Linked DNA regions of Homo sapiens. The protein of the gene in region 2 interacts with the protein of the main gene of each other region in a pairwise test. Each region holds a gene or a part of one and is shown on either strand. Other genes may lie near its edges.

The links.
Region 1: the proteins of DAGLA (region 2) and MAL interact in binary tests that used the Homo sapiens proteins (3 or more experiments, as listed by UniProt).
Region 3: the proteins of DAGLA (region 2) and CMTM7 interact in binary tests that used the Homo sapiens proteins (3 or more experiments, as listed by UniProt).

What each region holds. Positions count from the first base shown.
Region 1 is NC_000002.12:95,032,208-95,035,707, forward strand, and holds part of MAL (myelin and lymphocyte protein), read left to right. Parts: intron 1-3,500. UniProt on the Homo sapiens protein: May be involved in vesicular trafficking from the Golgi apparatus to the cell membrane. Plays a role in the maintenance of the myelin sheath, and in axon-glia and glia-glia interactions.
Region 2 is NC_000011.10:61,718,391-61,721,890, reverse strand, and holds part of DAGLA (diacylglycerol lipase-alpha), read right to left. Parts: intron 3,155-3,500; exon of another isoform or gene 2,886-3,154; intron 1,780-2,885; 5' UTR 1,736-1,779; coding exon 1,641-1,735; intron 1,213-1,640; coding exon 1,001-1,212; intron 1-1,000. UniProt on the Homo sapiens protein: Serine hydrolase that hydrolyzes arachidonic acid-esterified diacylglycerols (DAGs) to produce the principal endocannabinoid, 2-arachidonoylglycerol (2-AG).
Region 3 is NC_000003.12:32,453,441-32,456,028, reverse strand, and holds the end of CMTM7 (CKLF-like MARVEL transmembrane domain-containing protein 7), read right to left. Parts: intron 1,789-2,588; coding exon 1,775-1,788; 3' UTR 501-1,774; downstream 1-500.

The sequences.
Region 1 (3,500 bases), on a different chromosome or scaffold from region 2:
TTTTGCACCTATACTCGCCACACCAGCAGGCGAGGGGCAGAGCATATTGTGCTGCCAGCACAGACTAGCTCTGCACAGCCTTAGCAGTGGCTTGGCTTTGTCCTGGGCCCAGACACATTCTCCAGAGAAGGGGCTGGGAGTAGGGACTGGACCACCTGGGACCTGCCTTGACACAGGACAGAGCCAGCCAGACTTGAACTAGAAGGGGCTGGGGGCTGACTTAAGCCACTCCAGGGCTTCCTCCTGGCCCCTCCAGTGTCAGTGCCGGACATGGTGCTTTGGACCAGCAGGCCTCAGGGACAGGTGCTGATAGGACACCCCAGAGGGTGTACCCTCCTGGTGTTGATGGGTGTGAGGACAGTGGGGGACTGTGCCCCTTGTCCTTGAAGCAGGAACGTTCTGGGGTGTGTGGCCAGCTCCTTCTCACAGCTTTCAGATTGTTCCCAAGGGCATGGAGCATGGAGCAGGTCCCTCGTGGTCTCTCATCAATTTGGAAGGCTCCAAATTGCCTTTGACACCCTGGTGAAAGGTTTGATACCCAGTGAGCTCCTAGCTGGGCATGAGCAGTGTAGCCATTTCCCTTCTTGGGGTCATGAACGTGCCACACTCTGCTTCTCTGCAGCACTTCTCCCCAGGCTCTCTGCCGCTGCTACCTCATTCACAGCTAGTGTTCTATGCCAGGATTGGGTGAATCATTTTAATGTACCCGGGCCCTGGGTCCTGCAAAACATATGTAGGAAATCAAAGGAAAGCCTGTCACCAGCCACAGCACCTCCGCAGCGGGAAGAGAAGGTGCAGGGTCGCACAGCCAGCCTCACTGACCTGCAGTTCCTGGCCACAGCCTCCAGTCCCTGTGAGAATGCAGTGGGCTGGGAGGGGAGGGGCTGGAAGGGCAGGGGGAGGAGACAGAAAGTGAAGGTCCCAGAACCAACTTGGAGGGAGGCCCACGGGGGGCCCGGGAGGTGGGCACTCCAGGAATAGGGCCACGGGGAAGGACAGAAGATGACGTTCCCTGACCTGTCAGTGGAGTGGGGCGGGTGGGGTCTGCATGGCAGCCCCTCCCTCTTCTTCAGACTGAACTACAGGCCTGCATCTGCCGAAGAGGGAGCGGGATCCTTTGGCATTTCATCTTGTGCTGTATGTGTCTTAAACACAAACCTTGCTATTGTTTTCCTCTGAAGAAACAGAGGATATTGAGACTCATTGTTTCAGTGGCGGGCCAGGGAGGGAGAAGCCGGCTGGGAGTGGCCTAAAGACTAAGTGGTTATTCGCCACTTAGTTAACATGGAGGAGGCTCCATGTTAACGCGCCTGTAATCCTGGCACTCTGGGAGGTCAAGGTGAGAGGATCACTTGAGGTCAGGAGTTTGAGATCAGCCTGGGCAACATAGCAAGACCCCATTTCTACAAAAAATGTAAACAATTAGCCAACTATGATGGCTTGCACCCATAGTCCCAGCTACTCAGGAGGCTGGGATGGGAGGATTGCTTGAGCCTGGAGGTCAAGGCTGTAGTGAGCTGTGATCGCATCACTGCCCTCCAGTGTGGGTGACAGAGTGAGAACCTGTCATCAAAACAAAAATCTCATGGCCATTTCCAAAGCTGACCCTAGACACAAGAGGTAACTGTCACACCCATGGGGGCCTGGATCTGGGCCTCAGCCAGCTCATCAAAGGAGCACCCGGCAGCTGTGGGAACGTGGGCAGGTAACTGTGCCTCAGTTTCTGCATCAGTAAAATTTGGACATAGCAGCACCTGCCTCACATAGCTACTGCCCCATAGCTATCAAGTGCTGTTATTATTAGTTGACTAATAATTTAAGCATCTGCTCTGAAACCAACTGGCCGACCTGTGCCGATGGCAGGGTCCGCAAGGCCCGCCCCCATCACCTTTGCCATAGGTGCCCTCTGTTCCATTCTCAGGCAGGTGCTGCATGAGGATTGGGATTGGGCCAGGCTGTGGAGGGCACACTTGACTTTTCCCTGGAGTCACCGAGTCCTGCACAGACACCACCTTCCTGGGGCCTTCCCAGTGGCTCTCCTCTCACCAAGAAGGAACAACTGAGGGCAGAGGTCAGTGTGTCCTCAGCTAAGAGCTTGATGGAGCAGCCAAGGGGTGGAGGACAGTGTGGCAGCCCCAGCCTGCCTTCTGCCCAGGGAGCAGGCTGCTTTCTAAGCCTCTCTGCATCACCCTGCCAGCCTGGTGCCAAGATGGGCAGGCAGAGCTTTGTGGATTCTGAGTGTGACACATAGCTACATCTGCCCGCAGGCGTAGGAATGAATTATCAGCAGGCTCAGATTAAAGCTTTCAAAAGCGATTTGTCATCAGTGTCAGTGTGTCGGCTGTATGCAAGGGCATCAGTTCAGGGAGGGGGCAGCCTCTGGCAAAAACCTGTGCCCTCACCTCCCCCAGCCTCCATCCTGGCCCCCAGCTGCTTGGCAGGAGGGCATAGTTGGATTGAGGGGCCTGGCAGGAAAGGAACCGCCGAGCTTATGGGTCTCAGGACTATTTCTAAAACCAGCCACAGACCTCCTTCATCTCCATCTGTGGTCAGGTTGGGGGCAGCAGTGGGAATGCTTCTTTGTTGGAGGTGACCCTTTAGGCCCGAGCTAACCCATCCCCTCCACCGGGAAGCCCACCCTTCTAGCACCCTTTCCTGGCACTCAGAGCACATCCTGCAGACCTTTGCTTATTGTCTGTCTCGTGCCTACACCCTAAGTCTGCCCACATCCCTGGCACAGATCAAGAACTCTGAAACATTTGTTCTCAGCAAGCATCGGTAGGGAAGGGGCTCGGGTCTCCTCTCTCACCTACCTAACACTGATGAATCATAAGATGAGTCCTTGACCTCAAAGGCGGACAGAGGGTGAAACTGACAAAGGCTGCCAGTCCCCAAGAGACTCTGGGAGTTCCATCTCCCTTGGACCCTCCCAGACCCTGGGCGGGCAGCCTTCTGTCGCCTCTGGCAGGTGTACACCTGTTTTGTTGGTTTGTTCACATTACTAACCTACCTGGTGACTCCCATAAATCCCTTTTGTTTTTCTTGCATTTAAGCCACTCCTGTCTGGTCCAGCATTTCCACGGATTTTGCCTTTTACAGGTGGCTTACCCAGTATTTTCACAGAACCTCTTGGTTTCTGTTTATCCTGCTGGGTAAGGCCAGCAGGTGTAGATGTGGTAGGCAGAATTTTCCATTCAAATGAAGACATGCCTATCAGAAAGCCCCTAGATTTGTGGATCTGAGAGGAGTTTTTGTGCATTCAGGAACTAGTGACCATCCTCTAGCTCATGAGGGAGGTGGGTGTTAAGTCAGCAGTCACTTTGTCCTGCTGGCAGCGTGTGCTATGGGAGAGGCTTCCCTGGGGCTCAAGGGGGGTGAGATTGCAAGCCTGAACAGGGGGCTCTTCCCAGTCCAACTTGCCTTGTTAATATAAACTATGGCCCTCCACTCAGCTCTTAGATTTTTTTTTTTTTTTTTTTTGAGACAGAGTCTTGCTCTGT
Region 2 (3,500 bases):
ATCCCAGCTCCGACATTTACACGCTTACTAGTTGTGTGAGAGCTAGGCCTGGGCCCCAGTTTCCTCATCTATAAACGGAGACCAATAACACCCACTCCCTGTGAGTTAACACAGGAAAAAGGGCCTAGCCCAGTGCACAGAAGCACAAGAGCAGTGTTCACTACAAATGACCAGAAGGGGCTGCAACCTAAGCCCAAGAAGAGGACACAGGCTGGTCCTCTGGGGAGCTGGCCCAGACTCCTGAGGGGGTTCCCAGGAAGCAGAAGGCCTGTTTTGAGAAGGATCACAAGGAAGATATGCTTTGAAGAGATGCACATGGTTGAGGATGGGGTCAGCACCTTTTCCTGTAAAGGGCCAGAGAGCAAATATCTTGGACTCTGGGAGTCCTACAGTCGCTGTAGTAACTACTCAACTCGGCTGCTGTAGGGGCAAAGCAGCTGGAGACAATACCTTACTGAATGGATATGTGCCAATAAAACCTTATTTTCTTTTTTTTTGAGATGGAGACTTGCTCTGTCACCCAGGCTGGAGTGCAGTGGCGCAATCTCGGCTCACTGCAACCTCTGCCTCCTGGGTTCAAGTGATTCTCCTGCGTCAGCCTCCCAAGTAGCTGGGATTACAGGCGTGTGCCACCACACCTGGCTAATTTTTGTATTTTTAGTAGAGACGGGGTTTCCCCATGTTCGCCAGGCTGGTCTCGAACTCCTGACCTTGTGATCCACCTGCCTCGGCCTCCCAAAGTGCTGGGATTACAGGCATGAGCCACCACACCCAGCCTAAAACCTTATTTAATAACACATACAGCAGGCTGGATTTGGCCCTCAGGCTGCAGTTTGCTGGCCCCTAGTCTAGAATGTAAGCTACAGAAGGCCTTAGTTCACTGCTGTACCCCAGTGCTAAAACAGGGCCTGGCTCGCAACATGTGCGCAGTAAATACTGGCTGAGTGAATGGAGAGGTGGGAGTTGTCTGGGGCAGCACCCCAGGGTGGGTGGCCCTTACCCAGGCGCACGTAGAGCACGTACTGCATGGAGTCACGGGGCTCCGTGTAGAGGATGCCCCCGCGCATGCTCAGCCAGATGATGGCCATCTCAGCGATCATGCAGCTCAGCAGGATGCCCAGGTAGCCGCGGCCGTGGTCCACCAGGTTCAGGGAGCAGGCCTCGTGCGGGTTATAGACCAGGCCGAAGAGCACCACGGACAGGATCACAAACCTGTCACAGGAACGCCCGTGTGAGCAAGGCCAGGTGGCCCCTGTACCTCGAGATGCTACTAGCAGGCAGGCCCTTCCCCAGCCCAGATTCAGTGGAAGGAGGGCTGGCAGCAGGCACCTCCTCCATAAGACCATTGTCCACCTGGCATCGAATGCCTAGAAGGGCATGGGCGGCCAGTAAAAGACTCAGGGTCAGCCATGGGGAGACAGTAGCAGCAACTCCCCCCAGTGTTGGGGTCAGGTCCAGCAATGGTAGCAGGGGTGTCATTGCCCTAAGGGGCTAGATGTTTCAGGCACCTCCTCCGGGCAGCTGGGGGCATGACAGGGTTGGGACTTGGGCCCAAGCAGGGAGGAACAAATGGCCAGAAAGCGTCCTTCCAGACCTTTCTCTCCAAACCCAGGCCTGTGGCCCCGGGCCTGGGGACTCACCAGGTGGTATGCAGGAGAAAGAGGAAGATGGCCGGTAGGACGAGGTCATCACTGCCCACAGACCAGCGCCGCCGGAACACCACGATCCCGGGCATGGCTGGTGGCTCTGCAGAGGCTCAGTGGGCCTGGTGCTCACCTCCTGAAAGAAAGCAGAGGACCTTATAGCTGCCTGAGGAGGTGAAGGCACCCAGGGCCACTGCATTCCTTGGGCCACGGGACCAGTCCCCGGTGTGGCCAGAAGCACAGGCATTTTTGGAGCTGGCCACTGGAAGTGCTGACCCACCTCCGGGCAGGAGCCAACACAAAGGACCTTAGCAGCAGGACACAGACTTCAGCCTTCCCCCTGGAGTCTCTCCTGTCCCCCGAGACTGGTACTGGCCACTAGGGATCGGCTTCTACCTGGGGTTACCCCAGCAGTCACTGTTGAGCTCTATTAAAGACCCCGTTTCCTCCTTCATGGGATCAGTGGGACCCTCAGCCCAGCCCTCAAACCCTATAATCTTTAGACCTGGCCCAGTGCACACTGTCCTTGGAGTCAAGGGAGGGGCTTCCCAGACCAAGAACAAGCCCACCCAACAGCACAAAGCCCAGCAGGGCAGGAGGAAGGCTGAAGGCCTTGGGAAGGTGGGGGCAAGGGACCCTGTATGGTTGGCAGCTGGGACTGACAAACATGGAAGGTGAGGAGTGCCTGGCATAGAGCAGGTGCTCAGTAAGTATTTCTTGAATGAAGGCTTCAGTTTCCTGCTTTGCTGGAAGCCAAGAGCGTGCTCTATGACTTGGTTTTGAACCCATCAGACAGAAGTCCCCACCACAGCTATGCCTCCAGGGAGGGAAGAGCACGGTTGAGGTGCAGGGTCAGGAGTAGGGCTTGGGACACCTTCCACCCCACACTGCTGGAAGGATGGGGTAAGCCCTGCAGGGTCACACCCCTCCTGGCAACCATACCTCCCAAGCCCACCCTGAGCCATGCAGCTTTTCCAGCTGGATTTTCAACTCTCTGAAGTAGCTGAATTCAAATCAGCCCCAAGCAAGCTCAGGAAAGAGTGCCCAGGAACTCAGGGCCCTCACTCCTTAGCATCCCAAAGAGAAAGGAAGCAGCATGGGTGGGAGGTGACCCCACAGGGAGCTAGGTCCCCAGAGATACCCATAAAGGGCTCCAGGGTAGCTCTGCACTAAACTGCTGCAGGGGGCTGGGGACCAAGTTGGTGGGCAGCTGTCCCCCGCCGGGGGCCAGTAGAGGCTTACATGGCACCTGGTCCGGGGCAGGCGGCAGATCCTCCTCTCCCCAGTGGCGGCTCCAGGGAAAATGTGTGTCCGAGGAGCCCGGCATCATTCGGGGAGGAAGCAGCCAAGTCTCCCTTGGCCAGTGGGCATAGCCCCCAGGGTGGGCGAGAGGGCGTGGGGCCAGGTGGCCAGCCCGCATGTCCGCCCGGCCCGCCTCCCTATCCCCGGTGCAGCCACTTGGCGAGCTGTGGCCTGGCGGGCTGGCGGGCTAGCCTGCCGGGGTCGTGCCTACTCCTCCCCCCACCCTCAGGAAGTGACATCATCCCACTCTCTCTCCAAGGAGGAGTCGGAGCTCAGCTTCTGGGAGGCAGGGAGAAGGGTGGAGAGTGAGGGAGCATGGTGGTGGGGTGGCTGGGCTTTGGGGGTGGGGGGTGGTCTGTGGACTGCAGGGGTCCGGGGCGTCAGCAGTGCCTGTGACATGTGGCTGACAGCACCAGCTTCAGATTAGGGTTGGACACGATAGGACAGGAGGGGGGGCTGGGGCACCGTGGGTGGCAGTTGGGCTGGGGCAGAACAGAGCTGCCAACAGCTGGTATTGCCGCCCCCTCCCTGTCTCCAAGTAGCTCACAGAGGGTA
Region 3 (2,588 bases), on a different chromosome or scaffold from region 2:
CCATTTAGAAGGGATGGTTTTACCAGACAGTTTTTGGGAGGTCACAGAAACCCCAGTTTCTAAAAAGGCCCTGTGGTCTCAAACAGCCACCCCTCAGCCAAGCCACTGGCTGCATGGTCCACTGCTCGCTGTCTGTGGAGGCCTCACTTGGCTCTGCGTTTTGCTTTCCTTCCTCACTGAGCAGACTCTGGCTCCTGCTACTATTCCTCCAACTGTCCTCCACCCACCTTTGCCCTCCTAGGGGGATGCTCAAATGGTCAAACCCGGATCCTCGTTGCTTGGCGAGGCCTGCATTGTCACTACACAGGCAGGGGGCTCCCAGACCCAATGCCTCACCTGGACCGTGCCCTCCTCAGCTGAGACTCCTCCATTCCATTGCCCTGGAGGAGCCGACTGTGCCAGGGTCAGCTCAGCCATGTTCCCGCTCCAGCCCAGCTGGTACACAGGATCCCCTCCCATCAGCAGCACTCGGCTCCAGATACACCACGGGTGCTGCTTCCTTAGATCATCCCAGACAGAACCCGATGCCCCGAGCTGGCCAGCAGCCACAAGAGTAGCCCCAGAGCTCCAGCTCAAAGCCCACAGGGGCTGCTTCCATTTCCGGCAACACTCAGCAGAGGCAAGGATGGGGCTGGGAGTCAGGCAGACCTAGATCCTGAGCCCAGCTCCTCACTGGCTTGCCCTGTGCCTGGGGATGGAGCCCCGATTTCATTTCTAAAAATGTGGTCCTATAACCTGCCCCCTTGCAGTCACTACCATCGCTATTAGATGTGGTTGTGAATGTAGGTCCTTGCACACGGGGTTGCTCAAACATTGTTCCATCCCTCCTTTTTCTAGCCAACTGAGCAGCTCAAGATCAGCGAAACAGCACATTTAGGCCGAGATCATTAATCATCATAGTGTAAACACAACCCTTAGCTTGCTCTAAAGCTCTTTCCAAAATGAGAAGATTGGTATTGCAGGAGAAGGAGGACGTGAATATAATTGAGAACCTGCACATGTTTACCTAAAACTCTGCCCTGCTATACTATCCCCCAAGATGGAGAGAAAACCTGAAGTCCAGCAGTTCAGCAAGGGGCACACACAGAGCACGGGTGGAGGGCCATGGGCCAGACACAAGCTCGAATGGAAACTGTTTCAGGCCAGGTTTTACAGCCTTCATCTGGTTCAATAAGAAATCCTTGTGCAACTGGCCGAGTCAATATTTTATTAAAAAACACACAAACACATGCACACTGGTAACAAAGGCAGAGATGGAGAGGAGACACAAGATCTCCTTGGGGACAGGCTGACCACATAGTGTTTCTACAGGCACGCCTCACTTCAGGAAAGAGGGTATCTCTAAGACCGGACTGACAAGCTAGATAAATTAGGACAGGGCTTTGTTTCTTAAGGCACTTCACTCCCCTGAGGAGTGAAGTAGAAGGGATTTAGGCGGGAGTATTCACAAACCCCTTCAGCTGTGCTAAGTGGGGTTCATCAGTACCTGAGGTGGTTCTAGAAGCAGGAAGGCAGAAAACATTTCCCTGGAGGCTGCTTTCCTTTCCCAGAATGGGAGGGATGTTCTCCCCGGAAGGCTGGAGGAAGAGTTTCCGGCTGGCTCAGGAGCTCAGGGAGCTGGCTTCCTGGGAGAGCAGGAAGAGGGTGCAGGCCTTTCCTGGTGCCCACCAGCCTGACAGGACTTTGGCACAGGAACACAGGTCCAGAGGCCTCGCCTGGAGTACACGTCCTCCTCTCTGCAAAGCTCCTGAGGGGCCTAGGGGTTGTGGCCTCATCAGACGGCTGCATCTTGGGAAGGAAATGGCAGTCAGGACAGCTTGCCAGGGATGTGGCCCACCCACAAGCCACACTCCACAGGTTTGACTCCAAGTTCTGCTCAGGGGGGCACCTGTGTCCTCCACCCAGTGCCGACTTGCACTGAGATTATTCCATTTTTTAAAAATACATTTCCAAACAAGGAAAAAACTTCGGTAGTGCAGAGGTGACTCCCATCCGCACTCCCCCGACCTCAGTCTTACTCCTCAGCAGCAACCTCCCAAGCCTTTTAGCCATTTCTTTTGGTGATTCTTCCATAATTCAAAAAACCAATTTATACCAATATTTATAGATTTATCCTGTTAGACACCACCTATTAACTTCTCTTTTCCCCTATATTCTCTACGTTTAAAAATCATTCTTTTTTTTCTTAAACAGCTTTACTGGGATATTTTAATAATTCACATACCATACAATTCTCCCATCTAAAGTGTTTTTCAGTATATTCACAGGACTGTGCAACCACAATTTTAGAGCCTTTTCATCACCTCAAAAAGAAGCCTCATCCTCATTAGCAGTCACACCTGAGTCCTCTCCCAGCAGCCCCAGGCCGCCATGGGTCTACCTTGTGTCTCTATGAATCTGCCTGCTCTAGACGATTCTTATTAGTGGAATCCTACACTACATGGGCTCAGTGTAGGATTCCATGAGTAATGCCCTCAAAGAGGAGGCAAGTTAAATAAACTGCACAGTCATGCGATGGACTTAATGCTGCAACCCACGGAGTTGCTAAGAATTCCTAATGATGTTGGGAAAATGTTTGGTCAGTGGCT